Homo sapiens: one gene and its partners. The protein of the gene in region 1 interacts with the protein of each later gene in a pairwise test. Each region holds a gene or a part of one and is shown on either strand. Other genes may lie near its edges.

What was found.
Region 2: the proteins of SPRY3 (region 1) and MAPKBP1 interact in binary tests that used the Homo sapiens proteins (3 or more experiments, as listed by UniProt).
Region 3: the proteins of SPRY3 (region 1) and VSNL1 interact in binary tests that used the Homo sapiens proteins (3 or more experiments, as listed by UniProt).

What each region holds. Positions count from the first base shown.
Region 1 is NC_000023.11:155,767,298-155,777,760, reverse strand, and holds part of SPRY3 (protein sprouty homolog 3), read right to left. Parts: intron 9,966-10,463; exon of another isoform or gene 9,800-9,965; 5' UTR 9,625-9,799; intron 8,336-9,624; exon of another isoform or gene 7,899-8,335; intron 3,996-7,898; 5' UTR 3,890-3,995; coding exon 3,023-3,889; 3' UTR 1-3,022. UniProt on the Homo sapiens protein: Inhibits neurite branching, arbor length and neurite complexity. Inhibits EGF-mediated p42/44 ERK signaling. Negatively regulates the MAPK cascade, resulting in a reduction of extracellular matrix protein accumulation.
Region 2 is NC_000015.10:41,810,152-41,820,614, forward strand, and holds part of MAPKBP1 (mitogen-activated protein kinase-binding protein 1), read left to right. Parts: intron 1-731; coding exon 732-794; intron 795-1,026; coding exon 1,027-1,084; intron 1,085-1,805; coding exon 1,806-1,976; intron 1,977-2,364; coding exon 2,365-2,502; intron 2,503-2,767; coding exon 2,768-2,950; intron 2,951-3,178; coding exon of another isoform or gene 3,179-3,196; intron 3,197-3,469; coding exon 3,470-3,630; intron 3,631-4,398; coding exon 4,399-4,588; intron 4,589-5,107; coding exon 5,108-5,254; intron 5,255-5,472; coding exon 5,473-5,648; intron 5,649-6,407; coding exon 6,408-6,499; intron 6,500-6,758; coding exon 6,759-6,884; intron 6,885-7,236; coding exon 7,237-7,307; intron 7,308-7,462; coding exon 7,463-7,584; intron 7,585-7,857; coding exon 7,858-7,933; intron 7,934-8,042; coding exon 8,043-8,154; intron 8,155-8,367; coding exon 8,368-8,431; intron 8,432-8,671; coding exon 8,672-8,806; intron 8,807-9,094; coding exon 9,095-9,228; intron 9,229-9,443; coding exon 9,444-9,499; and 1 more. UniProt on the Homo sapiens protein: Negative regulator of NOD2 function. It down-regulates NOD2-induced processes such as activation of NF-kappa-B signaling, IL8 secretion and antibacterial response. Involved in JNK signaling pathway.
Region 3 is NC_000002.12:17,645,233-17,655,695, forward strand, and holds part of VSNL1 (visinin-like protein 1), read left to right. Parts: exon of another isoform or gene 1-4,177; coding exon 4,178-4,393; intron 4,394-4,548; coding exon of another isoform or gene 4,549-4,778; intron 4,779-9,964; coding exon 9,965-10,162; 3' UTR 10,163-10,463.

The DNA of each region.
Region 1 (10,463 bases):
ACATGACACAAAGTAGAAAAATAATGAAAACAGAGCCTCCCTGCAGGATTTAGAGTTCTTTCGTATATATTTTAAATATACATGTGCAATACATTAAAATATATAGAGATGTGTGAATATATATAATCACAGAAGGGATACATACGCACACTCACTCACACGTCCATGCGCATATCCCAACAGGACCCATCTATACGTAAAGCAGATGCAGTCCATATCAGGCCAACTTGGACACAAGTGAAAGCCCTGACTCAACAGCAGATTGCAGATTGCAACTGTATTTGAGTAACCCTTCAATTTCTTCTACCAAGTGTAAGGCCATTTAGAAACACACTGAGAAAGGCTCCTCTGGGTATATGGCAGAACCCAGGGCCCCTCTGGCAGTGCACAATTTGCCTGAGTTAGGACTGCAAGATTGGGATATCAAGGAGCTATCAAGGAGGAGGGGCTCGTGTTATTTTGGGGCCTGAAACTAATAAGCAAACATCCATAGAATAATTTAGCTCCAGGAACAATGCACTAGTGTCAGAGAATCCTTAGATAACTGAGCTCTAAGCACATTTCAGGCAGAAGCAGAGAAGTGTGTGTTGCTACTCATCACCATCCAGCTTGACCCAGAGAACTGGGCAGAGCTTTTCAGGGTAGATAAGTGTAAAGTACAATCAAGCAGACTTGTAAGATTAAAAAGTTACTTAAAATTGAAGGATCTGAAAGCAACATAAGAGGTTACAGGTATTGGTTTGGGTTTATAAATGTTCCAAGAAGCCTAACCTTATATATGGCACCATTTGCAGCAATATCATTAACATTATTAATAATCATCATAACATATTTATATATACAAAAATAGAGCAAAGCAATTCTAGAAGAGGAGGTGTAAGTGAAGGTGTGGGGCTCTGTGCAGCCCAAATGTCAGTACACTTCAGGAAGATTCAGAACCAACAAAAAGTGAGTGGCACATATTTCTGTAATATGTATCCAACAAAGGGACATGGAGGTCCCCTCTTCCCCCCGTGTACTACTATACACTTCTCCCCACTTCTCCACCCTGCAACACACATCCATGCACACTCTAGAAGAGATGATCTATAAAGTTAGAGTCTGGAGGTCTTAAACTAAGTTGGAGCACCTTGATTTCAAGCAAGTGCCCTCAATCTCTGAATTCGTCAGTGAATTTTGGATTCACTTATAGAGGGAAACTGTATAATTCTTGTGTCTTTTAGCAGCAGTCTTTAGGAGCCTGCCATCACCACTGCAGCTTTTTCCCATTGAAGGGGGTTCACAGCACAGGCTCTCTGTACTTTTTAAGAGAGAAGTCAGTTCTCTACATTATACATCTTTCATCTCAGTTTTTCACTGTTGCTGAAATTTAAGTTCTCAGGCAGCTGCCATTGCAGACAAAGCCAGGAGCAAGCACAGTGTGTGCAGCAAAGAGTAGATGCAATGGCGAAGATACAGCTTGGTTAGGGCTTCTTTAAGCTTTTCTTTTCCACACTTGAGCTTCTACAAGGTGACAGAGCCAAAGGTGATGTCCACTGGGGGCAGCCTCAACACCTGATAGTTAATTAGCTACCCACCATGCACTGGAGAAAGACCACCACACTAACTAGGCATGGTTCCTGAAAAGTAATTGAATGGGAATGGCTTTCTGTCACTGTTAATAGAGCCCTAGGAAAAAGTCCCATGACTCAATGTGGTACAGGGGTAAGAATACTGAACTAGGAGTCAGAAGGCCTATATTCCAGTCTCAATTCTGCTGTTAACTCAGTGTGCGGCCTTGGGGGCAAGTCCCTTCCTACCTCCAGGCCTCAGTTTTCCCATCTGTAAAATAAGGGCATTGAACTAGATTAATAGTTAAGATTCCTTCCAGCTCTAACGTTTTATGACTTTTTATGTCCATTATTAACGCCTGAGCCATGCAGTCTCAGGGAAGTTAGCTTCTAAGAGAGAACATACCTCTGTATCCTTTGCTTTGTTCATTTAGCTATAAAGCACGTCTGCCTTTGGCACTTGGGTCAGACATACAAAGTTATGAGCATCCTGATTTACTATCCTACTCAGCATGCTAGTGGAATCTGTCAGCACTATAAGTTGATTATTGAGAAAGGGAGAAAAACTCCAACTAGTTAAACCTGGAAATATAAGATAACTTCGCCTCATGCGCTCACGAACAGGTGAGAGTGGTTGTGAGCACACACACACATCGGGATACACACTATTGCTAGTGATCAGTTCATTACAGTAATCCATTTCCCTTAATAAAAATTAGTAAATAGTATAGCATAGCAAAGTTTGGCATCTAAGGAAACATCTATGGAAAAACAGCACTTTTGGACATGTTAGAGAAAAAGGGACAGGTAGAGAGAGACAAATATAGATCAAATGAGATAGAAATACAGGCAGAGAAAGGATCAGTCTGAAAAAGAAGGAGGGGAGAAGGAGAAAGGGAGGAAGAAAGAGAAAAAGTAAAAGCAGACAGGGTGAGAATGAAGGGGAAAGGAATACAGAACAGAATAATGAAAGAGGAGAGAGGAATAAAGAAGAGAAGGGCAGTAACAGGGAGAAGGGGTCGTATTCCCTGGAAGGTTGAACGCTGTTCCACATGTACCTGTGAAAACCATCTTAGAAGAAAGCTTCCAAAGGCACAGCAGAAAACAGAGTGACGATCAGAGCCTGCATCGAGAGGTATTACATTGGGGAGCCCCTAAACCTCCACGTTGCTGGCCCTGTCAGTCCTCAGTGTTCAAACCTCATACCCATATATCACCTGAATTTGCCATGACAACCATAAAGGCTGAGCTGGCAGGGTGTAAAGACTGAAGAGGAGTGGGATAGATACTGTGAGAAAGAACAAGGCATCCTGCACCAGGATGTACTTGGTCATTCCCCTGACACTGCAGGAACAAAAGAGAGGCCCTAACTTTGGCTAGTTTATCACTCCTCCCCCTCTCCAAAGATGAGGCCTATGCTTTGCTGTTGGGGACTCGAAGGAGAAAAGCTCTGGATCCACCTTGTTGGAAGGTCATACAGACTTTTCCTGGGCCTTGGGGAAGGGTGCACTACCAGAAGAGATCTTTCTGCACACAGTGTTGGTGTGCCTCTTGCAGCGGCAGCCTGGTCGCCGGAGGCTATCATAGCCCTGTTGGCACAGATGGAGGCATCCACGGGTAGGCAGGTAGCAGCACAGGCAGGGTAGGAAGAGGGAGATGAGGCTCATGGCTGCCCAGCGGACAAAGCAAGAACTAGGCCCACAAGAGCAGGGCTCATCAGCACAGTTGTCTTCATCATCAGTGGAGCAGTGGTAGAAGAGGCCCTTGACACAGCAGAGACAAGTGCCATAATCGAGGAGGCTCTCAGCAGAGCAAAGGCAGCGCTGGTTGCACAGCCAGCAGGAGGGGAGAGGGCGAGCTGCTGTGCAGGGGACGCACTTGCAGCGCCCACATTCCTCACAGATGAAGAGGTGCTCACTAGGGTGCCCTGCAGATTGCTCAGCTTCTCCCTTCAGAGCACCATCAGCCTTTGGGTGGACCCCTGCTCCAGGTTGGGTTCGGATGATGGATTGGCCTGAAGGTGAGGGTGTAATGCTGGCCAAGAGCCTTTGATCAGAGGCAGTGGTGCTATGGGACATTGAGCTGGCAATGCTAGATTGGCTCAGATGCTGAGGCAAGGGCTGCAGTTGATGGCACTGGCTGAGACTGCGGGGGAGAGAAGTAGGCATGGTAGCCAGAGACCAATCAGACTTGTGGGTTTGCACAATAAGGGAAGGGCTGGAGAGGGCCTGTTTACAGGGGGCTGGAGGCCGTTCCACGTAGTCATTGCTAGCATGAGTAGAGCGCAGCTGTTCAATAGGCAGAATTTGTTGAAAATCATCTGTCACCGCAGCATCCATTTTGCCTTGATTTTTTAGCTCTGAGTGGTTTTAAGTCAGGGTGGCACTTATGGTGATAAAGAGGAGCCCTTGTAGTTACATGGATTTCAGGGCACATGAGAAAATCCTAGGAGAGAAGGCATAAAAACAGTAAATGAGAACACACAGGCATAAGTACTTTGCAAGAAACCAACAAAGCTCAGGCCCTATCACCACCACTACCTTCAATTACTTTACAGTAATCTTCATGCTACACCTTTATTCTGTAATTAACCTCACTTACTTCTTTATAGGCAAATCTCATCATCCCCTCCAGACTATAAAGAAGTTTGGGAACAAATATCAGATAGTTGATTCTTTTTGTATTCCATCAAATGCCTAGTTTCACAGGAGCAGCTAGCTCATTCAGGTATTTGCTAGCAGAGACATCCAAGCCTTGGGCATCAGAATTCTAATACAAATGGAACCTAATATTAACTGCAAAGGCTATTTTCTGAAGCAATGCTGAAGGAAAAGAGAAAGCCTCAAAAGTCTCCCATGAGAAGTTGCTCATATATATATATATATATATATATATATATATATCCAATCAAAATTATCTTTTCAGTGTGAATTTGTGATAAGCAGAAATAAACAGATAAGAAAGGACATTACTTGATTCAGTGAATACAGGCAAGCAAGGAGAATGCAATAAAGGCAGAGATACAGCAAACACACAGAAGGTAGGAATTAAGCTGTCTGCAGTGTAGTAGGAAAAAAAAAGGCTTCCCAAGAGTATAAGGAAACCAAGACTAATCATCTTGCAGTTCTCTTCACCTTACTGGCTGCTTTAACTTACTAAGGAAGTGATTCTTTTTAAATGGAATGGAGGCTCCAGAATCAAACTTTTGTACACGTGGGAGTAATACTGGGGATCAAGGAACTATAGAAGACAAGTCCTGAATTATTTCAAAAATCATCTGTAATTATACCTATTACTATCCTAAGTCACCTCCATATTGATGAGACTTACCAAGCAGAATCTGCTTGGACTTCTTTTCTCTATCACTACCTTACACAATAAACTGACTTTCTTAAAGGAAAGTGATATTCTTATACCATATTTAAGCTAAGTTGAATGTCTAGAAAGCATATGCTTGCATTTCCATTGTACTACAGTCAGGAAGAGGTGGTTGGTCATTCCCTGAAGGATTTTACCAAGCCTAGAACTGATAATGATGACCATGGGGAAAATACTGTACAAATAGCAGACTGCTGTATTGCACCACCTAGAAGACTGAAGAGTCAAAAAGGTGTACATGAAGAAACCTAAACACAAATCCAGGAAACATCCTGGAGGCATTAGGACGTAGCAAAACACTAGCATGAATAAAGTATATATTTGAGATCCATCAGATTTCAGGCCTTCTCAAAATAGATCAATTACTCACACTACTGTATGTGATGGATAGCTTGAATGAGTAATAGAAATGAACAAGTGAGAGAGGATGGTGCTTGATTACGTTTCCATAAGCAAGCAAACATGACACTGAAATGGGCCCAAAGCTCAATAACAGGAAAAACAAGGATGCAGTTCATAAAGGACTCAGTGGCTAATAATATGACCAGACTCAGTTGACTTTTGAGGCTATATCCTCATGCAAACCTGATAAGCTGAATTTACATCTGCTCATTACTTGAAAAGATTTAATTTGGTTACAAATAACCTTTTTGGCATATCACATCAAAGAACCAGTCTGACAAAAATTTCACTTTTTAACTAGTTGTTTTGGTGTTAAATAAATGCAGCATAAGAGAATGCAAATAAATATTATGGAAACTCTCAGACTCAAATATTTATGTCACTTTTGTCAAATCACTTGCTTTCTTTGGGCCTCAGTTTCACTATCTATGTGAAACTGAAGGATATGTGATGTGAACAAGGTGATCTTGAAGGACCTTGAGCCATTATGGTCTGTATTTCTTTCTATAACTACACAATTTTATAAAATATTTCTTTTCATCCGTATCTTCTACATCTTCAAGTCCTTGAGGGTAAGGTGGGCAATGTGCCCTTACTTATTGGGGCATTCAAAAGCAAAATGTATGTTTCCTTTATTTACTTGCACTCAAAGGCTCATGCAACCTGCCACCTCTACCTTTGCTGTATCTTTATAGATTCATAGTCTCAGCATTGGAAAGGAACTGGCAGCTTTCATGTAGACACCCAAATAAAAAAGGACACATTGTTCATTTGGCTTGGAGGGTATGTAGATGTAGGAACTTGGGACTGGGAGGAGTCTTTTGACAAATTTATGAGAAATAGATTTATGTCCCATTGATCGGCTAAAGAATATGTGGAGCCCTGCAAGTCCTTTGTACTGTAAGAACAATAATATACATGCTGAATGCAGTTTAGACTAATTGATTTCCCAAAGGAAACTAGATTCAAAACATATTGAAAATTCCAGGAAGCAATAATTTAAAGGAAGTTATACAAGGTCTCAAAGTTACAGGAGATAAACAGGTGAGATTCCAAAGACAGGATTCTAGGGATGTCACTAGGAACCTCAGGGACATGCCCAGAAGGTTGAAAGCTAATCTGGGAGGAATCTAGGTCATAATATAAATGACTCAGAAACAATAATGAGAATTATGTTCAAAGGGGATCCTGTCTGGGGAGCAGAAGGGTACATGGTGTTTAGGTTGAAAAGCTGTATTTCAATATTGATTCGATTTCTGCAAGACTGATAAATTGAGATGCTTGGTTGGATGATTAAAAGAAGCTGTGGGCATTATTTCAGTCTGAAATAATGATGCACTGTCTTGCCTACAAGTAAGGGAACTGACAGGATGAACTTAGAAGGTTTCTTCCTGCTCTGTAGAATCTTTTATTCAAATGGACTCTGGGATCTAATGTGGGAGACCTGCAGTAAGTGGACAGTAGGACCTGAATAAAATCAGAGTGTTGAGTAGGATTTAAGGATTGAATGACAATAAATTGTTTGCCATTCTGGACATGCTGAATCTGATCTGGCTAACAGGATGAACTGAAATAGATACTGTACAGGAAGGTAAGAGGGAAAAATATGTTGAGAAAGGAACAGGCAAGACACTGCTGTAGCACATAGGCTAGATGAAAAAGTACCACTACGTGAATGTTTATGATTCAGAAATCCACCCACTAAAGAGCCATTCATTGTGAGCAGCAACAGTTAAGAAACTGTGCAGTTGGCCAATTCCATAGTCTATCAAATGAGAGAGAGAGAGAGAGAGAGAGAGAGAATGTACACATCACATATTATTAAATAAGAGCAAAGGTGATTACAGGTCTTGGCTGCACATTGATGGGATCTAGTGATTTTTGTCACGTAGTGCCTCTGCAGTAATGAATGATGCATTGTAAACCCACTCCCATCACAGTCTCTCTGGCCAGGTGCTCATAGCTTTCTAAACAGTTTTTCTGTAGCCCTGAATTTGCCATGTTCAACCTGAAAAAAATTTCTTTTCTTATGCCAATTTAGGGACTAGAAAGCTAAGCCCATTCAAGAAATGCTAATGTTTGTTAATGAAAGAAAATGTATTTTCTCCCTGGAACCTAAAATCTGCCATGTTGAGAATAAAGTTGAAAACTTTCCTATCTAAAGCCCTTCTATGCTAACACCGCAAGACAGTTCTGATTTCTATGGTAAATCCTTTCCGATACAGTATGACTCAACGTTGATTTCAAAGAAGAGTGGAGTGAGGAAGAGGAGATCCTGGCTCTTGTTTTCTCCCAGTCTCACGGGTTCAATGCTGTTTTGTACCCTACTGTGTAACGGCTCTTAGGTGTGTTGCTTTTTTCTATGCTCTGCTGTTATATACACTCCTACTCAGAATAACTGAAAGCAAACATAGGGGGAATTTCTGCTTTGGCTTTATATGTTTTCTTAGTTCTACTGTTCCAAAGTCTGCTCTCTAAAAATCCCTCTCTGTGCAAAAAGCATTTGCATCTCTATCAAAGCACTCCCCCCTTACAAATACCAAGTTGTATATAGTTTACATTACTAACCTCTCTGCCACTGACTGGGCCTCCCTCCTACCGCATACATCTTGTTGGAGCTGCCAGGTTCTCACCACATTTAACTCTTAACTTGTCACTTTGCTACCCTAGTCCTATTCATTACTTTAATGGTTTCATTAAGACTCATAGCAGTTTATTTCAAACCAGGGAGTCTTGCAGTTTTAAGACCTTGAATGTTAAAAGATATAGGTCTTTTAGTGATGAATGATACAGGGAAAATTTGTAATACCAAATGAATTCACATCTAATCCTGAGGAAAATTGTAAGAAGAAGCTGGTTGTTCATCTAAGAAGTAGGATTTTTTTTTTAAAAACTCAAATCCTTTTATATGACACAAGAAATTTAAGGTCTAGTCCTAATGGTAGCTCTACTTTGCTGCGTGGCTGTAGGCAAATGACCTCCGTTCTGGTCCTCAGTTTCTTCATCTGCAAAATAAAAGGAGGGTTTTTAAAGGCCTTTCTTGTCCAGATGCTCTAAATTTTATGTTGGGTTTGTTGGTTGCATTTCTCTGTTTCAAAAGTCTTTAAGGAAGAATTAGTGTCCTTTCCTTTAGGTTCTTTACTTCCTCACTACTCAACTCCTCAACTCTTAATAAATATCTTCAAATCTAAGTCACTCAGATCACTATCTAGACTGTTTCACAGCTAGAGAGACCTAAAAACAGAACACAAAGAGACAAATATATAGAATGTTATAGTAATGTCTTTGTATATGTTTGTTTAGAGGCAAGGAGAGCAAGACCAATATTTCATTGTGGATAAACGGCTAGCCTGTGCCTTATTTGTATTTATGAATGCAGCCGACTTTTTGGGAACATGATTTAACACCTGGTATATCCAAATTCATGTGATAACACATCATGATACAGTGAGGTTTTAATATTACCAGAAAAGCAACAATAGTTTCCATTTCAAAATAGATTTTCTGCTTAAGAGTTCAAGGTCTGTTTTCTGTTCATCCAACTTGGTTTGCAGCATGCAGAGGTGAAGAATGATAATTATAATTAGCTTCATGGAAGTGAGTGTGCAGTAAACCATTGCCCTAGGTCTTATCAAATGCCTATTGGCTAACTAGACGTGCTCACAGGTTCTCACTTTTGACAGAATCTCCATATGCCACACAGAGACATGTGCACACGTACCCAGGCACGGATACAGAGATTTCTAAATCACTGCTCTGACTCAATGTAAGTGGGGGGTTCTGCCGTGTCAGCTTGCGCCATGTCTACCCAGGGCAAGGTGATGTGATGAAATCTGAACGATGCACAGCCCAGACTTGTGAGCCAATAGCAGAGGCTAGCCCCATGCTGACAGGATGCCCGCTGGGCAGCCAGACTGGCCTTAGCACGGGCTCTCTCTCTGTCCTCAGCTTGGGTGGTTAGGCTGCGTTTTGAGGGGTTTAGGCAAGTACCAAAATGCATTTAAAGGTTAACAGGCTAGAAATTAAATTGACATTCGCCTAGAAAAATATTATTTTGAAGTCCTATTTGGATTTACACATTTCCAATGTGGATAGTTTTCTGCGAGAGCCGATTTATTTAAATATAATTTAAAGGGTTTTCATTTTATTTTATCCATGCGCTTGCGCGCGCGCGCCCAAGCGCGCGGCACACACACGCACACAGAGACAGCACAGGATGGCTGGAATGAATGGCAATCTGTGCATTGCATAGAAAGAATTCTGGGTTTTTAAAGAGCTAATTTCTATGGCTTACCTTGAGGAAATGGTTTATCCATGCTGAGAAAAGCAGAAGAACTAATGCCCCATCTGGCTCAAAGGATCTCTTCTCCTCAGTCTTTAGGTTTCTCCACCTCTCTTCGGAAAGTCTGAATGAAAACTCCTTCACTGGCAGGCAGTGGAGCCAGAAACAGAGATAGTTCTGTCTTGTTCTTTGACACAGCAGAGAAAACACAAAACAAAACAAAACAAAACAAAACAAAACAAAAAAACGGGGGAGGGGGCGAGTCAAACCTGTAGTGGCATATACTTTGTATAGATTTTACAGGCAGATCTAAATCTTGATGGACGTATTTCCCAAAGAAAGCTCAGCAGGGTAAGTTGTTCACCTCCTCCTCTTTCTCCTCCTCCTCCTCTCTCTCCTCCTCCTCCTCTCTCTCCTCCTCCTCCTCTTTCTCCTCCTCCTCTTCTTTCTCCTCCTCCTCCGCCTCTTTCTCCTCCCCCTTCTCCTCCTCCTCCTGTTTCTCTTCCCCCTCCCCCTCCAGTATTTTCCTTCCCCTCCTCTTGCCCTCCCCTTTCCCTCCTCCCCTTCTTCCTCCTTTACCTCCTCCCCCTCCTCTTTCGCCTCCGCCTCCGCCTCCACCTTGGTCTCCCTCTCCTCCAATCTGACAGATGAACCGAAGCAGCAGAAACTGCAGTTGTAGACACAGGGTATCTCAACGGAGCAATAGATACCGCCAGTGTGTGATTATTTATATGGCTCAGGGTGTGTTGGTATATAATCTGCAGTGGGGGCAGGGAGTGAGTTGGCAGTGTGTTCAGCTTAGCTAGCTGGCCGTTTTGTGAATGTAGATGATTTCTGGAGGTCTTGTGAAT
Region 2 (10,463 bases), on another chromosome or scaffold:
TGGCCCCAAGCCTGTGAACGGGCTGTGCACCCGAGGCCTGCTTTGCCCAAATCACATTTCTTCTTCCCTCCTACACCCCTTCCTGGGGTATGCACAAGGGCTGCGGGATGGCCTGTGTCCCTGCTGCCCTTTGTGGGTATGGCCAGAGATAGAGCTGGTATTTAGGGGCCTGGCTGGGGGGACAGGCTTCCAGGGAACCCTTTCACCCTCATGGGGCTACAGAGATAGTTCCTCTTGGGTGGGGAAAAGGAGCAAGAACAGGTTGCCAGGAGAAAGCAGTGGAGGCTGGGCACGGTGGCTTATGCCTGTAATCCCAGCACTTTGGGAGGCAGATCACTTGAGTTCAAGAGTTTGGGACCAGCCTGGGCAACGTGGCAAGATCCCGTGTCTACAAAAAAAAAAAAAAAAAAATACAAAGATTAGCTTGCATGGTGGCACATGCCTGTGGTTCCAGCTACTAGGGAGGCTAAGGTGGGAGGATTGCTTGAACCTGCAAGTTGAGGCTGCACTGAGCCATGTTTGCACCACTGCACTCTGGCTGGGATGACAGAGTAAGATCCTGTCTCAAAAAAAAAAAAAAAAAAAAAAGAAAAGGAAAAAAACAGTGGAGCCCTTCTGAGCTCTTTCTACCCAGCTCCCTCTGCCGGGTGACTGGAAGTCCTGGGTGGCCTGGAGGGCTCCTGGGGGAGCTGTGGTTTGCTGCTGAGCCTGTTGTCTGCTCATCTCCTCAGGTGTGTGGTTGTGTTGTTCAATCCCCGGAAACACAAACAGCACCACATCCTCAACAGTTCCAGGTAAATGGGCTGGGGTCCTCAGGATACCTCTTCCTTCTGGGAGCTATGAGAAGGGCACTGTCTAGAGTCTCTATGGCTCTGGGGGCTGGGACCTGGTTGGGTCCTAAAGCCAGATGGGGAAGTGCCACATGTGCCATTGGTGTCTGCTGGTCTCACCTTTTGAGAGGCTGGGAGGGGGCTAGGCTTAGGCCAGGCTGCCAGTGCCCCTCTGAGCCTGCCCCATCTCTTGCAGGAAAACCATCACTGCCCTTGCCTTCTCCCCTGATGGCAAGTACTTGGTCACTGGAGAGGTGAGTGAGGAAGAGGGCTGGCAGTACTGTAAAGAGGGCAGGTGTCCTGGCCTCCGCAGAGAGCTGCGGTCCTAGGCCTGCTGTCACTTTGGCTTCTGAAACAGACACCAAATCCTGGTTTTCGCTATACCTTAAAATAGTGGTTCTCAAGCTTTAGTGTACATCAGAATCACTTGGAGGGCTTGTGAAAGCACACATCACTAGCCTGGTCCTCAGAGTTTCTGATTCTGTAGGTCTGGGATGGGAGTCTGAAATGTGCATTTGTAACAAGTTCCCAGAGAGTGCTGATCCTGCTGGTGAAGGAAGCGTGCTTTGGAAACCACTGCCTTAACTATTCCTTACCCCCGGGGGCCCCCTGCTGGGCTCAGGAGGAACGCTTCTGTCCTGGCGGCGTAGTCTTACTAGGGGCAGAAATAGACCTGAGTGGTAGTGGCTCTCAATGCCGGCTGCCCATCAGAACCATTCAGGGAGCTTTGAACAACCTGAAGTACAGACGGCCACCCAGAGATGCTGACTAAAATCCGGGGCCACTTTCTTCCTGGTAATCACTGTTGCCCTCAGATCTTTATCATATTTCCTCTATACCCTGCCCTGACTTTTGGCTGGGGAAGTGATGGTATCTAGTAGCTGAGGAGGCGAGGGCCCCGCTCTGGAAGACGAAGTGGGGCTGTATGCCTGTGGAGAAGTCAAGAACTCACTTCCAGTTCTTGCCTCCCTGCAGAGTGGGCACATGCCTGCCGTGCGGGTTTGGGACGTGGCAGAGCACAGCCAGGTGGCCGAGCTGCAGGAGCACAAGTATGGTGTGGCTTGTGTGGCCTTCTCTCCTAGCGCCAAGTACATTGTCTCTGTGGGCTACCAGCATGACATGATCGTCAACGTGTGGGCCTGGAAGGTGAGTGGCTGGGTGGGGTGGCCTGGCAGCCTCACAGGGGTCAAGTGTCAGCTGGGGAGGCAAGAGACTGCTGACCTGCACTGCTCCATTCCACCCCACTGAACCATTCTCATTCTAGAAAGTTATTTGAAGCAGAAAAGAGCAACTGTGTGGCCAAGCATGTTGGTTGAAGGGGCTAGCTTTATGCCTTCAAAGACTTCTGCAGGAAACGAATCTTTTCAGCTCCTCTAGAAAGGGATTATTTCCCTACCCCTCTTTTTCTGGCCAGTAAATTCTGGAAAGAAACACTTTGTCAAGTACAAATTCTAATTCTCCTCCATTCTCTGAGTCACTGTCTTCTTAGCTCCAAGAGACAGAGCCTTGATTCTTCCTTTGGCATCCCCTCCAGAAAAACATTGTGGTGGCCTCCAACAAGGTGTCCAGTCGGGTGACAGCAGTGTCCTTCTCTGAGGATTGCAGCTACTTTGTCACTGCAGGCAACCGACACATCAAATTCTGGTATCTCGATGACAGCAAGACCTCAAAGGTGAGGTGCTGAAGCTGGGAGTAGCCACCAAGGCCCCTGGCAGGGCCTGCCCAGCCCAACCCAGGAGACTCTGCCCCACTTGGGCCTCTCTCTGCATTCCCAGCAGTCATGCAGAAGTTTTGGATGAGCCAGATGCTGTCTGGGCTGAGGAGTAGGCCCAAAGAGCAAGGAGGTGCTGGAGGCGTCCCCTGTACTCTCCTAGGGCCCAGTTTCCAGGGGCAGGCTCTGGGGTGGATGGGGGTGTAACAGTGGTGTGCCTCCACAGGTGAATGCCACTGTGCCCTTGCTGGGCCGCTCAGGGCTGCTGGGAGAGCTACGGAACAACCTATTCACTGATGTGGCCTGTGGCAGAGGAAAAAAGGCGGACAGTACCTTCTGCATCACGTCCTCAGGGCTGCTGTGCGAGTTCAGTGATCGAAGGCTTTTGGACAAGTGGGTGGAGCTGAGGGTAAGTACCTCCGTCCCCAGGGGTAGGGTCTGCTCATGTCTCAGCTCAGGGGAGAACTAGTGCCCAGGGCTTCAGACTAGGGGCTGGTCCCTTGTGCATACGGGAGATCCCAGGAGAACGAAGCTTGGGGGAGCTAGAGCTTGGCCCATTTCCAGCCCTTGGTGATCTGTATAACTGCCTCCTCTCTGCTCTTTCTGTCTCTTTCCCCTGCTTTCCTCTTCCGCTCAGAACATAGACAGCTTCACAGTAAGTGGTGCCTGCACCTTCCTCTCTTTCTCATGCTATTTCTTTCTCTTCACTGGGCTTTTCCTACTGGATCCTCTGGTGCCTAGAAGAATCCTCGGTTCCTAATCCCTGGCTGGACAGGGCTGAGGGGCTCAGAACAGGGCAGCTGGGCGGCTTTTCCCTTGCCCCTGCCTTGGCCGGTCCCTCCTCTTGGCAGGTGGCTGTTGATGGGTGGGGAGGAGAGAAGACTGAGTGGGCAGGTGGCCTTGCTGAGCTGAGCCACTCTGCCCACAGACCACAGTGGCCCACTGCATCTCTGTGAGCCAAGACTACATCTTCTGTGGCTGTGCTGATGGCACCGTGCGCCTTTTCAACCCCTCTAACCTGCACTTCCTTAGCACCTTGCCCCGACCCCATGCTCTGGGGACAGACATTGCTAGCGTCACCGAGGCCAGGTGAGCTATGTGGGCCCCCCTTCCTCCATTTGTAGCCTTACCCCTGCCCAGTCTTTCTTGTCAGTGCCTCAGGGAGCAGGTGAAGAGTGTATTGATGCCCCAAAGATTATTGGGAACACCTCTTTAGACAGAAGAATTTGGGTTTATTGGTACTTGTTGCAACCAAGGAGACCCCACCCCATGGAGAACTGTGGAGAGTCTCAGTAAGTGGGTGTTAGGAGGGACATATGGGATTTGGGTTTGCGTTGGGTGATTTTAGGAATCGTTCAAGGGATTGAAGTATTCTGGTTGGATGCTGTCCGGAACTAGGGGCAATTCTACAGTGGAACATCTTGTTAATTTATCTAAGAGGTGAAGGAAAGGTATGGGGCTAAAGCTGTATTTGGTCAAGAAGCCGCCAGCAGTCATGTAGATGGGAAAGGCGGTGTTTGGTCATTGTCATGGTTCGTTGTGGTTTGTATGGTGATCTTGTTTTTATCTGTGCACAGAGTAGTCTTGTTTTTGTTTTGCCCCATCACAGCCATAGAAGTACCTTGTCTAACGTTGGTGTTCTGTGAAGCTGTGTTCATCCGAACACCATGGCCCAGCAGCTAGTGCTGGGTCAGGTTCCTGCTGATGGCTAGTAGGGGCTCCTTTCTTCTCTCAAGCAACTACTTCCAAACCTGCAGGTCCAGGGAGGGCTCCTCACACACTGCTCCTTCCATTGTGGATTGGCTTCTCTTTTCATTCCCTTCAGTCTGACCAGTGTGCCCTGTCCTCTCCCTACAGTCGCCTCTTCTCTGGAGTGGCGAATGCCAGGTATCCAGACACCATTGCCTTGACCTTTGATCCTACTAATCAGTGGCTGTCTTGTGTGTACAACGATCATAGCATTTATGTTTGGGATGTGAGGGACCCCAAGAAAGTGGGCAAGGTGTACTCGGCTCTGTATCATTCTTCCTGCGTCTGGAGTGTGGAGGTATGTGGGCTGGCTGGCTGGCTGGAGACTGGCCAGGTTGGCTGGGATACCATTTTGAGGACAGAAAATAGGGATCCCCAAGTATAATCTTAGATTCCTGCTGCCTCCCTGTTTCTCCAGTGACTTCCCTGGGATAGATCCTGGGGACTGAGTTTGAATGTTACAGGCTTCCCCAGTGTGCCCCATCCTTAGTTTTGCCTCGGTCATCTTGGACAAGTTATTGAATTTGACCAAGCCTCAGTTTCCTCACCTGTAAAATGGTGTACTTGATTCACCTAATTGTTCTAAGAATAAAATGAAATAATGTAAGTGGGAGACATAGAAGAGTGCCTGATATATAGTGGGTGCTTCCCCTTGGTCATGTTGAAGGGTATATACCAGTTATGTATGGCCTGTGACAGGCACTGGGCTAAGTCCTGGCCACCATTCCCTTTTTCGTCCCATTCCCTTCCATCTCCTTGGGTAGGCAGAGGACTGCTCCCGAATGGAGGTCTGATTGTGTTCCCTCGGCCTCTTCAGGTCTACCCCGAGGTGAAGGATAGTAACCAGGCCTGCCTGCCCCCCAGTTCCTTTATTACCTGCTCCTCAGACAACACCATCCGCCTGTGGAACACAGAGAGCTCCGGGGTGCATGGCTCCACCCTCCACCGAAACATCCTCAGCAGTGTGAGCCCTGAGGCTGTGGGGCCCCGCTTCACCCTCAGTGCCCCCATCCCCACAGCTATTGCACCTTGTTACTGGGAACTGGTCCCTAGGCCTTGGCCTTCCAGCCTTCATTTGGCTGTGCTCTGTGGTCCAAGGGTTTGTTTTGCTCAGCTTTCTTGCCCCTTGCAGCTGTACTGGTCAGGCCTGCCTCATCCACCTTTTCTAACCTGTTCCACTAGGACCTCATTAAAATCATCTATGTGGATGGGAACACCCAGGCCCTGCTGGACACAGAGCTGCCTGGAGGAGACAAAGCTGATGCATCCCTGTTGGATCCCCGCGTGGGCATCCGCTCGGTGTGTGTCAGCCCCAATGGACAGCATCTAGCATCAGGGGACCGTATGGGCACACTTAGGTAATGCCAGGCCCTGGGTGGGTACTGACTGCCTCTCATGGTGCAGAGTTGGGTATTTAGAACTTTAGGGAGGGTTTGGCTCAAAAAGATTGGGCAACAAGATACTTATTTACAAGGCAAAGATAATAACTTCACAATGAGTAAACCTAGCAGAAATCATCTTCACCAAGTGATCAAGGTTAACATCCTCATATCAACATCATTAAGCCCATGATAGGATGTACTAAGAAGGATGTGACAATGTTTCTGTGGTATTCTTACCAAAAATGCATAAACTCAATATAGGCGTGAGAAAACATCCGACAAACTCACATTGAGGTACATACCACAGAGTAACTGATCAATACTCTTCAAAAACGTCAAGATCATGAAAAGTAAGGAAAGACCAGAGAACTGTTACAGACCACAGAAGTCTAAGGAGAAGTAACTAAATGCAATTTGGATTCTGGATAGGATCTAGAGTCAAGAAAAAGGACATAGTAGGAAAACTGGTGAAATTTGAATAAGGTCTCTAATTAATAGTATTATACCAACATAAATTTCCTAGTTTTGATAATTGCACTATCGTTATGTAAGATGTTCACATTAGGGAAAGCTGGGTAAGGGAAATATAGACGCTCTCTGTTCTTTCAGCAACTTTTCTCTAAGCCTAAAAGTTCAAAAAAAGGAAAAAGGAGGAGAAAATGTAGCAGAGGAGGGGGCGTGAGTCCTTCCTGCGGCCTGGCCATGGCCTCTTCCCACCTCTCCTCATCTTTGCAGGGTGCACGAACTTCAGTCCCTGAGTGAGATGCTGAAGGTGGAGGCCCATGACTCTGAGATTCTGTGCCTGGAGTATTCTAAGCCAGACACAGGTTAGGAGAATGCCCGGAATGGCACAGGGCTCCTCCAGTCCTGCCGGTGCCACTTATATCTGTCCCGGCTCTTGGACGTGGGGTCGGTAATCTTTGGATCATTGGTGTCTTTGCTGGTTTAGAGGAAGACAGCTCTGTCCTTGCTCCATGGTTCACATGGCTTGGGGATATGGGGCTCAGTTCCCTTGGGGCTCTTTGCCAGGCCCAGATAAGGGCTGTTCAGGGCACTCATGGGCTGATGGAGTTCTTTCATCCCCAGGTCTGAAACTGCTAGCATCGGCGAGCCGGGACCGGCTGATCCATGTGCTGGATGCCGGGCGGGAGTACAGCCTACAGCAGACGCTGGACGAACACTCATCCTCCATCACTGCTGTTAAGTTTGCAGGTGCGGGCAGGGTGAATGAGACACATCCTGCCACTCTCACCCCTGCTGCCATCTGCCTCCCACCTCCATGAGAAGGGTCTGCCCATTGTGGGGGAGTGTTGGACAGCAGCTGGGAGGCCTGGAGCTGGTTGGGAAGATAGGTGGAACAGAGACTCTCAGTGCTGGGACTTGAGCCAACCAGGTTGGACTGAGGATAAGGAGACAGGAAAACCTGGGTTTCCAGGTTTAATTTAGTTGGTTTTCCCTGGCATGTAGAGTAGCTTGATGGGGGATCTCATGGAGGGAAGGTGGGAGGCAGGCTGCTCCCATGTGGTGAGAACAGTGGGAACAGCTGGGCTTCCCTCCTTCATAGCCAGTGATGGGCAAGTCCGCATGATCAGCTGTGGAGCAGACAAGAGCATCTACTTCCGCACTGCGCAGAAGGTGAGGGCGCTGGGCTTTCCTGAGAGGGGCGGGACAGGGCGGGGTCTGCCATTCCCTGCCTAAGGTTACAAGAGGTGAAGGGAGGCGCAAGTAGGGCTCTTGGGGCCTGGTGAGGCATTTGGGTGTGGGCCTGCCCACATGCTCCACCCCTGCAGTCTGGAGATGGAGTGCAGTTCACACGGACACACCACGTGGTGCGGAAGACGACCCTCTATGACATGGATGTGGAGCCCAGCTGGAAGTACACGGCTATCGGCTGCCAGGACCGAAATATTCGGTGGGCGTCCCCTCCTCAGACTCTGCCCACATTCCTTCATCTCCCTACGGGGTCAGCTCTGTGCAGCTAAGTTCCCACATCTGTCGTTCTGTACAGGACTTTGTACCCCCTTGAGCCTACAGTACTTTGCTTCACCCAAGAGGTGGTAGCCTGTTTGCTGCTGGGGGTAGCTCCCAGAGAGTGTAGACTGGGAGTGAAAGCTGGCATTTCCATCCCCCAGGCGTGTTCCACCTTCACCGCCTCCTCATGAGAAAGAGACTATGTTTCTTACAGGATATTTAACATCAGCAGTGGAAAGCAGAAGAAGCTGTTTAAAGGGTCACAGGGTGAGGACGGCACACTCATTAAGGTAAGGACCCAGAGGGGGTACTGGACAGGGGCTCGGGGACAGAGTGGTGCTGGGTGGGAGGGACTGGTACTTCCCATGTCCTCCAGCTGCACACCCTGCTACTCCTCAGGTGCAGACAGACCCCTCAGGGATCTACATTGCCACCAGCTGTTCTGACAAGAATCTCTCCATTTTTGACTTCTCCTCAGGCGAGTGCGTGGCCACCATGTTTGGCCACTCAGGTGAGTGTAGCCTGAATCCCCGAGTAGAAGCTGATACCTGCGTAAACCTGAGTGAGTTCCACCCCTGGAACTTCACTCTTCTATTAGTTTCTTGGGACCCGCAGAGCTACCTATCCCTACCCTGCAGCCAACCCCCGTGTCCACTGTTGGGATGGAGAGGACTTGGTTGGGAATTTAAGGTGGCTTATAGACCGTATTCTTTGTTCTTCACAGAGATTGTCACTGGCATGAAATTTAGTAATGATTGTAAACATCTCATCTCTGTGTCTGGGGACAGGTGAGCAGAAGCCAGCTTCCCTGAGAGGCAGATTCTTACTCTGCCACAGCACCCTGCCCTCCCCTCTCTCCATTTCAGTGATGTCTCTGGGAAGTGGGGTTAACAGGGATAGCTTTTGGCTGTGCTTGACCTGAAGTGGAGGGTGGCTCTGGTCTCCTTGCCATCCATGGATAAGGGGAACGAATGGCGCTAGCCATTCTACCTGCCCCTCCTTCAGCCAACTGTGTGGCTTTACCCCAGCTGCATATTTGTGTGGCGCCTGAGCTCTGAGATGACCATCAGCATGAGGCAGCGTCTGGCCGAGTTGCGCCAGCGTCAGCGGGGCGGCAAGCAGCAAGGACCATCCTCTCCCCAAAGGGCTTCTGGACCCAACCGGTGAGAACAGAATGTGGGCAAGTGATGGGTGGGTGTGCAGATGGCTTGCTGGGACCTCACTGCACTTCCTCCATGCTTTGGGCCTGCCATTCAGCAACTCTGTCTCCCAAGACCTTACCTCTCACACAAGGATCCATGATGTCAGCCTCTTCCCCCTGTTGAGTCTCCTCTCCCCCTATTGAGTCTCATCTTCCCCTCATTGAGTCTCCTCTTCCTTCTTCCCCCACTGAGCCTCCTCTCCCCCTATTGAGTCTCCTCTCCCCATGCCCTTCCTTGTCTCGGACTCAGGCACCAGGCCCCATCAATGCTGTCTCCTGGACCGGCTCTCTCATCAGACAGTGACAAGGAGGGAGAAGATGAGGGGACTGAAGAAGAACTTCCAGCACTGCCCGTCCTTGCCAAGAGTACCAAGAAGGCACTGGGTCTGTGGCAGTTGGGTGTGGGGGCAGACAGGCCCTAGTTGGTATAATGGCTAGATATGGTTTTTCTGAGACTGTGGGGTGAGAGCAGTGTGAGCTGAGGAAACTGAGGCATCACTGTGGCCACACAGGGTATGGGCTGATGGGGCCAGGGCTCCAGGGTTGGGTGGCGGGGGGGGGGCAGGAGACACTTCCTCTGACTGCCTGTTTCTGTCTAGCCTCGGTCCCCAGCCCAGCTTTGCCCCGAAGCCTGTCCCACTGGGAGATGAGTCGGGTGAGTCGCCATTGTTAAAATGTTCTTCCAAGGTTAGAGGAGGCAAAGGGAGCTGTGAGAACAGGGCTCTCTGGGCCTGGTAGGGTACTGGGGCATGGGGTCTGCCCACATGCTGCACTCGTGTGTCCAAGGAAGGCCTTGTCGGGGAAGTTGAAGCAGCTGGGCTGGTCCTGGGTGCGGGGGTGAAGAAAGCCCAGGTATTTCCTTCCTGTGGACCAGTTGGGGTGGATGGAGCACAGGGTTAGTCAGCACTGGGGAGGTGGGGCACTTGTTCAGCTGCCTGGTGCCTGGAAGTAAATATCATCAGAGAAGAGCTCAAGGTGGAGAGGACAAAGGACCCCTAAGCCAGATAGTTAGAACTAAAATGCAGGAAATCAAGGATCCAAAGAGCGGAGATCTGGAGAAACAGTTCTAAAGATCCCGGTTAGGAGGTAAGCGGAGAACTTCCAGAATAGTTAGAGGGAAAAGGCCATGAGGGGACCCATAACTCAGCGACTGCCCTGGGGTGGCCAAAGGGGGATCAAGGTGTTCAGAGCAAGTTCCCAAGCACCAGTACCTTCCGTTGTCAGCAACAGTTTCACAGAGTGATGATGCTGTGGTGTCTCTGGAGCACCCTGACCGGGCCAGGGGTCTCAGGCCTGGGCTATAGGTTTGTCCTTGGTGCTGTGAGGGGACTTTGGGGCCCCCAGCTATTGGAGTGATTGGGGTAGAGAGGCAAAAGGAGTGGTTGGGGTAGACAGGCAGAAGTGGCCTTTGCCCTGGGCTGGATTTCTTGGGGGACTCTTGGTAGTAAGTGGTTGCTGCTGGGGCTGTCCTCAGAGTAGGAGACTTTTAGAGACCCCCAGCTCTGAGGCATCCATGATACCAGGTGAAGGCTGAGACTAGGGGTTCCTGTGCCAGAGGATGCGGAATGCAGCTAAGAGCATGAACTCTGGAGCCAGACTAATCTGCAGGCCACTTACTG
Region 3 (10,463 bases), on another chromosome or scaffold:
CCCTCCTGACACAGCACATCAGCTGTTGCATGGGCAGGGGTGAGTCCTGGCCAAGGCCTTGCTTGTGCCCACCCCACCCCCACCCAAAGGTTGGGCTGGAGAACTTCTTGGGGAGCTGCCTCCTCCATCACATTGAGGCAGTGAACCAGGGATCTTTGGAGGGGAGAGATTCATGTGGGAAATGCTGCAATATTTTCTCTGGAAGGATAAGCTATCCAGGCAGCAATGGTGCTGGGGAGGGCTGGGATAGGGGTGCAGAGGAAATGTGTCACTGGAGAGAGGCACAGTGTTTGTAGATCATCACTCAGCCTTTCTGTGCCCACGCTGGGTGGGGCCCTGGAGGCCCAGAGGCTAATGTGTCTGGTTCTCATGCACCACCTCTTAGAGGAAACAAACATTTTGATATTCACAACTAGATAGATTACTGAAAAGAAAGAAATGCAGAGTGGGGCCCACTGTCTGTAGAAAAAGCTCCTGCCCTGGCCAGGAGGAAGCTGGTTAAACCATGCAAAGACTCCTGTTGTCTGCCTGGGGAAAGAAAAGACCTCAAGTGTTTCCTGGGGTTTTCTTCTGCAGGTTGTTCGGTTCAGGGACAGGGTATGGAGTACAACCGGGAGCAGTCAAGGTCTGTGTAATCCCAAGAAGTCTCAGACTCTGAAACTCTAGGCTATGATGAAGAACAATGAATTGTCAGCAGCCTGTATATTAGGATGGGGGGAAAGGACCACATGCGAATATTTTAAAGCTTCAAACTGACAATATCATGTCCATTACTTTTGTTTGCAGCTCCATACACTTGTAATTTATCACAGTAAAATTTTATACTTCTTTATATGGTGGTTTGATTAATGCCTATTTTCCCCCACTCCTTAATGCTCTATGTCTTTCTTCTATTTTATTGCCAGCACCTAACACTGTCCTTGACACATAGCAGCTGCTCTCAATGTTGAGTTAAAGAATGAGTCAGAAAATAACTCAGTTAGAATCTCAGTAATTTCCTTGCAGTACATATGTGCTGCCAGAAGGTGGCGAAAATACTCAGAGCAGAGAATTTCAAGCTTCAGAGGCAATGGATGCTAAGAATTACATAATGCAACACATTTGGTTGCTTCATCAAATGTGGAGTTAAGTTTATTTCCTCGGCTAACACTTGATTAAGATAAATCTCAAGGTGTGGCAGAAACGGTCAGACAGATTTGCATTCAAATCCAGCCTCTGCTGCAGACAGCCAGGAATCTTAGGCAAATGCCTTTGACCTTTCTAGGCTTCCACTTCCTCATCCACAAAATGGAAAGTACAATGTCAGATTTTGTTATGAAAATTAAGTGAGAGAACACTAATACACATACACACACACATATACATATACATATGAGTGTGTATATACATTTTTAATTTTTCAACCTCAAAGTTCTTTGTATCTGTCATATTATTTATAGATTATTACTGCCATCGAATATTACTTCCATGTCAAAATTTAATACAAGAATTGAAACAAAATACATTGAGTTAAAAAGAAATTGAACAAGAGTACGCAAAAAAAGAAAAATACTGTGCTTTTCAGGCCCTGTTGTCCTCCAGGAGAAGTAAATCTGAGTTCAAGACCCTGAATTCTTCCTAAGAAATTGAAGGGAATGCAGCTTCATTTCTCTGTGATGATCCATCTAGAGTTGAATTATTTTGTCAAAATAAGGAGCATGTCCCTAGTTAGAAAAACTCAAAGCACTCAGAACATGATAGGATAAATTTCCTAAAGGAAACAACCCCTCCAGAAATTTGAAGGCTCTTGAGCACACACTCAGTTCTAAAGTAAACATGTTGGTTGTAAAAGTCAGTATATAGACCTTCTGCAAGACACATGTAACTTTTATAGCTCAAAATTTACAATTGATTTTTCTCTCAAGGTTTTTTAGACCTAAATTAATTTTTAATATACTGACCCAAGGTGCCCAGTTATTTTTAGATAAAACTGTCAACTATCCCTTAACCTAAAAGTAGGCTGTGAGACATAAGATAGTTAAAGCATTACAGTGCCAGAAACCTACACGAATGGAGGTTTCGTGCCCACTGGTCTCATGCCAACTGCACATAGAAATGCTGGCGGGTAAACAGCACTAAGGGGACTTGGGAACCTGTCCAGGGGCTCGCTCTGCTCCACTCCAAGTCAGTTCACAGGTGCCAGCCCCACCCAGGCCCCTAATCACAAGGCAGATGAACACATCAGCCAAAGTACCCTCTAGAAAGGGACCAGGACCACTCATGCATAAGGCACAGGAGGAGCAAACTTGCCTATTTAGAAGTTTTCAGATTCAACATTGTTTAGTTCAAAACTCAGCGCCTGGCAGCCTGTCCTCAGGTACCAAGCACCTAAGTAGCATTGGGGGGTGAGGGGCTGGGGTCATGCTGAGCTGTTCAAAGAAGAAGGAAAGTCCTTCCCTCTACAACTCCCTCCTTGAAACTAACAGCTCATTTACTGAGCTTTAGTAATACTTTGCCCTCTCCTCTGTTCTAGTTCTTATCAAGTAACATGACCAAGTCAATTTTGAGTAAAGTCCCCCCATTAACTGTGCAGTCTCGGAACACAGAGACCTCGAGGTATTGCTCTCTGAGTCCATAGCACCCAAGACGAGGCCCGACATGAATAAGAACGCAGTGAATTCTGACGAATAATGAAAAATGAAGGATAAGAGAAGTGAAAGATATGTTTAGGGAATGAGGGAACATAAGAGAACATTGTCCTTTGTAACCAGGAAAAGATATGTTTGATGAAAAAAAGAAATGGGTCTCAAATGTTTATTTCGTGAGATAATAAAATGATTGTTGTCATTTTAAGCCACTAGCTTTTGGGGTGATTTGTTATATAGGAATAGTCTCTGGAACAGATCATTGTGCCTAGCAATGGGTACTACCAAAATATAAGTAATGGGTACTTTCCTTCTCCTGGAATGCTTGGCTGTTCCCTGGGCCCCATGTATAGAATCCTTCTGTGTTAAAGCATATCTTATGTCTGGAGGGAAATTTTCTACCTTCCAATGTGCTTCTAGGTGCAGGAGGAGTGGGCAGCAGAGCTCTGCAGGACCCAGGTCAGGATGCACAGTGAGAAAGACGGACCGAGGGCTCCTCGAGGTAGATAGCCCAGAGTGGGCAAAGAGGCCATCTGTATGAAGGCTGCTCACCTGGTCCACTTAGCAGGTGCAAAACTTACGAAGGAAAAGGGATATCAATGAGCAACCTCAGTAATCTTCTATAGACCTTGTAGTGCTTGCCTATAGAGCCCAGAACCCAGATTTATTCATCCAGAAATACATACGTAACTTCTCTGCTTTAAAATAGCACATGGTTTGTTTTTGGTTGTATTTGGGGCTTTGCAGTTCTTCCTTGTTAATTATCAGAACTACCTGCTGTTTGTGACTGGCCTAGGCTTATGTCCAAGGGGACTGAGGCCACCACCTACTGATTCCCCATGGCCTTCCCTCCTTGTGGTCTATGCTTCCCTTTCCTCCTTGTGTCCATTCTCTGCCTCCCACACACCCCTGGTGACAGTTGGCTCTGTGAAGAAACCTCTTTATGTCTCTCAAAAATAAGCCCAGTCATGTTCTATTTTTAATGAGTTTTAAATGTCTGTTCTGCAAAAGAAAAGTCCCTGCAAAAAGAAGTTAGAAACTGGAACCTCACCCAGGGAGGGGATAAGTGTGGGCCCAGGACGAGGGCTGGTGGCAGGAGAAACCAGGTCTGGGCACCCTCCCTCTGGCCCTACTGGGCAGCGATGAAGCCAGATTCTCATATCTAGAGGAACATTGAAGTTCGTGTAGCACCACCTGTGTGGGGAGAGAAACTGCTGTCTGCCTCAGTCCTGTTCCTGGGGGGAGTGAGCTGAGATGCTGCAACACTAGCATCAGGTGGTGCTTGTTGACCGATTCCAAGCCCCATCAACTGAAAGCCACATGTCACCAGCCTCACCCACAGGAAACAATGAGATGCCTGTACCTGAGCACCTGCTGTGAGAAAGCCTCCCCTAATGCCTGCCCTTGCCCTTGACAGTCAGGCCAAACTGCTCTCCAATGGGTGAGGCTCCGACAACGCCCAGGAGCACCTGTGATGCCGTCATTAGGAACCTACCTCGTCGCCCCGATTCCATCCCCTCCCGACACCTGACTGCGCGTGTTCTCCTTTGCAGTTCTTTCCTTATGGAGACGCCTCCAAGTTTGCCCAGCATGCCTTCCGAACCTTCGACAAGAATGGGGACGGCACCATTGACTTCCGAGAGTTCATCTGCGCTCTGTCCATCACCTCCAGGGGCAGCTTTGAGCAGAAGCTGAACTGGGCCTTCAATATGTATGACCTGGATGGTGATGGCAAGATCACCCGAGTGGAGATGCTGGAGATCATCGAGGTGAGGCCCGGGGTGTGGTTGGCGGGTGGTGGGCACAGAAGGAGACCCCACGGCAGCCTCCTAGGTGCAGGCCTTAGTGGCTTCTTCTCTCTCTGCTCGAGCCCTGCCAGCTGCACACCACGCCTGGACTTCTCCTGCTTCTGTCCCCGCTGCAGCACAGTGCTGGGGAGGTCCCAGAACCAAGCCATGGGGCCCGTACTGTCGTGACGGTGGCATTGTCATCTGCCATTCACTCACTACTGGATCTCCCACGAACCTGTCTTACTGTGCACACAGGATGTCATGGGCTGTTTCTCTGGCACTTGGTGTATCTCTGCTCTGCCTCACTCCAGCTGCGCCTAGTGGGGACCCGAGGCTGTCAGGGGCTCCCGGGACATCCTTCCAGGTTCTGGTCATTCCACAGCAAGCAGGCTTTGCCCATTGTGTTTGTGAGTAACCCAGGATTCCTCTGCCACGCCACCCACTGCGTACTGCATTCCCAATGTGAAGGTCTTCTTGGTTTTCTTCTAATGCCCGGTTCCACTTCAGGGCCTTCCACTTCCTCTCTCTCTGCCCAGCATGCCCTCCCCTGGCCTCTGGGGGCTCCTCCCTCACTTTGCTCCCATCTCTGGTCTTATCCCATCTCCCAGAGAGGTCTTCCTTCCTGCATACCTTCCCAAATATGCCCACTCCACCCTCACACCAAAGCAATCTAACCCTTACCAAGAGGGGTTTTGTCCCAACATCTGTCCCTGCCCCAGATTAACTTGTTGAGTGGAATATATGGCAGAATGCAAGCTCTCTGAGGAGGCTCTGCCCTCACGGCTGCATGCCCAGAACCCAGACCCAGCCTGGAGCCTGGCAGGCATGCAATAGCAGATGCATGGTTCGGTAGCTTTCCTTTGATTGACTGTCTTAGCATGGGTTCCCACCCCTGCACCAGCCACTCTGACCAAGGAGAGAAAGGTATCACTTGCTGAAGGTAGAGCCAGGTGCTCCATCCTGGAGCTGGGGGGATGCCCCATCCAGACACCAAGAGCTGAGATCAGGCAGGGTGGATCCCCACAAGAAAATGGGATGATTGCAAGAAACAGAAGCCAAAGCCCCAAGTTCCCCTCAGGACTCTCACTCTCCTCCCAGCCTCAGAGAGAAGTCACCCATCAACTCCCTGCCTGGGAAGCTGGCCTCGTTCACTTGCACACCCTCTCATTCCACATCTTCAGTCTCTTCTTCTCCGTTGGCTTCTCCCCTTCTATCTTCAATGCCCACTCCCTTTCAAATATACCCAGCAAACTAACATCTTAGTTCTTTACTTGTGTTCCCTTCATTCAATTGAATATATATTTTTTCCAGCAGGTTATCAGAAAAGATACAGCACAATAATTCTGAACATGTGGCTTGATTTTCTCATCTTTCTCACTCTTTAATCTTTTGTCCATCTTCCACACTTAACTTGGCTCCCTCCAAGGTCTCTCTATAAGCTCCCTACAGAGTAGGTTTTTCCAAGTTTTTTCTCCTCTTTGACTTCTTGTCATTTCCCCTCATTGGCCACCAAAACCCTTCCTCTCCAAAACTTTTCTCTCTAATCCTTGTCAATGCCCTTCAGCCAAAGTCCCCAAGGACATACCCACACTTACACAAGTTGACTTTATTACTGCTTGCAGTGAGGGAATCTTGGGGCAATTCAGCAGGAGGGTGTTAGAAAGGACTTCTAGGATCTGGACTTTGGGAGGGTGATTTGGGGAGGGTTCGGAGAAGCAGAGGTTTACTGTGGATTGGTTACTGTCAGGGAGTGGGGACACTTCTATGATTAGATACCTAGGAGGAGGGCACACAGACCAATGCAATGCTCTTAACGGGTGAAGAAGCAGTGGTCACTCACCATAGCAGGAAGCAGGGATGCTTGGTGTTTTGTGTCTGTGTTCAGACTTAATGACAGAGTGGTCTTGTTTTTGCCTTGCTCCATCATGGTCACTGGCATTTTGTGACATTGGTTATGTTTGGTGTGAGACCTGACTGTGAGGGCTGGGCCAGCTCCCGGCAGCACCAAGGCCCGGTGGGCAGTCCGGGCCATTTCCTGGCTGTCAGCGGCTGCTTTTCTTTCTCTTAGTTCTTCCACGTTTCTCCCCATCACTTCTAGCTCTTCCTTTCTTCTATTCAGAGCTTTTATGGATTGATTTCTCACCTGATTATGGGTCACATTTTCCTGCTTCGTGACACGTGTAATAATTTTTATTGGTTCCTGGACATTATGAATGTTGCATTAGAGTGTCTGTATTTTGTTGTCTTCATTTATAGAGTGCTGAGATTAGTTTTGACAGGCAGGTAAGTTATATGTAAATTAGCGTGATCTTTTCGAGGCAGTTTTATAATTTTAAGCTTTTAGAGCAGATGGAGAGTAGGTTTTCTGTAGTAAGTTAGCCCAGTGCCCAATTTGTGACCATTTTGGGGTTCTTACTGATTTTCTCATACATTTAGTGAGGTTTCTCTACTCTGGCTGGTGGGAACCAGCCCCATGTGTTGTGATACTTATTCAGGTATTTAAGTGAAAGAGGACATATCAGAGTATAACTAGACAGAGAATATAAATAGAAAAGAGGTTTCCAGAGGACTGAGGTCCTGGGGCAACCTGATGTTTAGAGGTGAGGAACATGAGGCACAATCAGTAAAGGAGATGGAGAAAGAATTGCCAGAAAGGTCAAAGTAAAAAAGGAAAAGTGAGAAGTCCTGGAAGGGAAACACACTGTTTTGTGGGGAAGGAATGGAATGTGCAATCATGTCAAATGCTATTGATAAAAGAAGTAAAAGGAGAAAAGTAATCACTGACAATTGGAATTGGAAACCTGGAGGCCATAGGTGAACCAGCTGAGAATAGTTTCAGAGGAGTTGGTGGCAAAATCCTAAATAGAGCAGCCCAGGAGAATGGGAGAGGAAGAAGTAAAGACAGTGACTGCAGAAAACTCTTGCCAGAAGCTTTGCTTTAAAAAGAAGAAGAATGGACAACAGGCTTCCTGAATGCCAAGGTATTTAGCAAGCTCTTTGCATTAAGAACTAGAATGCTCTGCAAGCCTGTGTGAGCACCAAGAGTTGTTCAGCTTATTGTTCAGAAACTTCTTTGTGAACTTTTATCCTCTGTGTGCAGCCTAGTTTCCAGATAAACATTGAGGAGTCCTCCTAGGCAGATTTCTGAGGCTTTCTTTCTGCCTGGCTCCCTCTCTGGTCCTCTGCCCCGAAATTTCTGGCTATCTTCACCTTCCTCCTCCAATTGTTGTCTCCTCCAGTTGGTGAGTCAGCCCTGCTTGGGACCCTTCTCCTTGTGCTGCGGTCCAGGAAGGACTCTGGGCTGAGATCATAGGGTTCATCTACTTTGTTTCCCACCTCTTAGGAATTACAGTCTTGCACTGTCAGTTGTAAAGTCTGAAAACAGCTATTTCTTTTATTTTTATCCAGTTTTCTAGTTTACAGTGAAAGGCAAGTCAGTACAGGTCCATCAGGGCTGGGGACCACAGGGGCAGTTTCACACGGAGTTCCGAGTCTGGCATGCCCGGCCTTTGTGATATGTAAAAGTCTGCATCTGAAACGGCCCTTCTTGGTTGTCGTGTTCACAGTCCCAATTGTAGGGCTGTGTCATGGATACGATTAATGAGATCCTGCCATTTTCAGAGTTGCTTCCTGAGGTCCAGGAGGGACTTCTTGTGTTTACATTTCTTATTACCCTGACTTTATTAATAGTGCACTTGTTTTGCTGCCTTCATACCCACTGCCTCATGTAAGGGCTTTTGATTTCGCCTTTTAAAGGCCAGGGTGAGAGTGGCAGCTTACATGTGTACGGGCCATTTGTCTCTTTTTAAATTCCAGACAGTACACATTCCGTGCTTTTCCTTTGTGCACCACTCTGGCTACTAGACTAATCAGGACCTTGTCTACCAATTATCCACAAAATGAAATTTCGGAAAGTCTGCCTCTTTTAGAGACAACTTTCTTAAAGTGTTCCATGATACATCAATACCATCTAGCTACAAAAGTAAATACGCACAAAATATTTTATCTCAGTGGACATTTTAACTTGTTAAATAAAGCACTTTCTAGTTAGTGGTTTGCTCTGATTGGCATTTCTAAAAACAACTTTATGAGTTATAACTTACAGACCATAAATTCACCCATGTTAAGTGTACAAATTAAATGATTTTTACTAAGTGTACAGAGATATGCAACCATCACCATAATGTAAATTTAAAACATTTTTATTCCCCCAGTTAGATCCCTCATGCCCAAAGGCCCGCTCCCACCCCAGGCTCAGGCAACCAACACATCACTGTGTCTCCATGGATTTGGCTCCCTTTCTGGGCATTTGACACAAATGGAATCACATAACATGTGGCCTTACATGTCTGGCTTCTTTATATTTTTGAGATTTATCCATGCTGTAGCATATTCATTCTCTTTTGTTGCTAAAATAGTATATATTTTTTTACCGTATAGCTGTATCCTATTTGTTTACAGTTGATGAGCACTTGTGTCATTTCCACATTTTGGCTATTAATAATACTGCTATGAATGTTCTCATGCAAGTCTTTGTATAGATGGGCATTTATTTTTAAAGCACTTTTCTAAGAAAGGAAATAATTTATACTTTGGAAATTTCATATCAAGAATTAATTGTATACAGTTAGTTGGTCTGGATAATTGAAATCTTCTCACTCTATTCTTTAACTTATAAACAGAGTCCCTGCTCCACAACTCTCCCTAAACTAACTTCTTGCAGAGTTCAATTTTAATGGTACAACTGGCTTGGTTGTCTTACTAGATTCTAAGTTTCTAATCAGTTGGCCCCACAATTCTTCTTTTCCTAAATCCCCAAGGCTAGTGCTTTTTGACTGTTTCCTGCACCTAGATGCAGAATGTTTAAAACTGAGCCCATCATGTTCCTCCCTGAACCTATTCCTAATCCATTATTTCTAATCTCACCATTGAGCCACCCTTTCTAACCACTTCCTCCAGCCAAAAACCTGGAAGCCACCCCAAATTCTTCTATATCCAGTTGGTCACAAGGCTCACCCATATTTGATTATGTCATCTCTTATTCAATAGCATTTAAGGACTTATTTGAAATAAAGTTAAATTCTTTATCTTATCCTAGGAAAACTCGGTGATCTGCTTCTCATTTCCCTCTCTCCAGCTTCATCTTTCAACACTTCACCTGGCCCTCCCTCCTACTGCCCCTTGCCCCACATCCCACGCTCCAGCAGCTAAAGCTTTTTCATTTGATCAGTATTTATTGAGACCTGTGATGTGCCAGGCATCATACCAAGCCCTGGACTTACAGGAGCACGTGCTTCCTAGCTCCATAGAACATACTCTTTAGTGGGGAAGACAAAGCAGTTATTTTAATAAAGGTGAGATGTATTCTGTTGGGGGAAATGGTATGGGTTGTCACAGAAACTTGCAGCACAAGGAGTGAAACTCCTCTGGGGAAAGGGAAGCTGAGGCTTGGAGGATGGGTGGGATCCCGTCAGGTGAAAGGGAGGCAAGAAGAGCTCTCTGTCCTCCTGGGTTTCTGGTAATATCACCTACAATGCTTTTTTCCCCAAGGCTATCTACAAAATGGTAGGCACTGTGATCATGATGAAAATGAATGAGGATGGCCTGACGCCTGAGCAGCGAGTAGACAAGATTTTCAGCAAGATGGATAAGAACAAAGATGACCAGATTACACTGGATGAATTCAAAGAAGCTGCAAAGAGCGACCCTTCCATTGTATTACTTCTGCAGTGCGACATCCAGAAATGAGCTGATGTCAATGCTATGGACTGCACAAAAGTCTCAATGTTCCATTCAGTCTGCAGCTATTCACACACACACACACACACACACACACACACACACACACACACACAAATATTGCTTGGACTACCTATAAATGGACTTGCTTCTTGTGTTTGAAACACTCGTGTGCATGAGAATGTCATTTGCTAATGAATTTTAAAAGCATATATAAAACAAAACAAACAACCTGCCACAATGTGATATGTGTAATATCATTTCATAAAAATCCCTCTTCCTCCAAAGCCTGGGCAGAAATGTGCTGCAA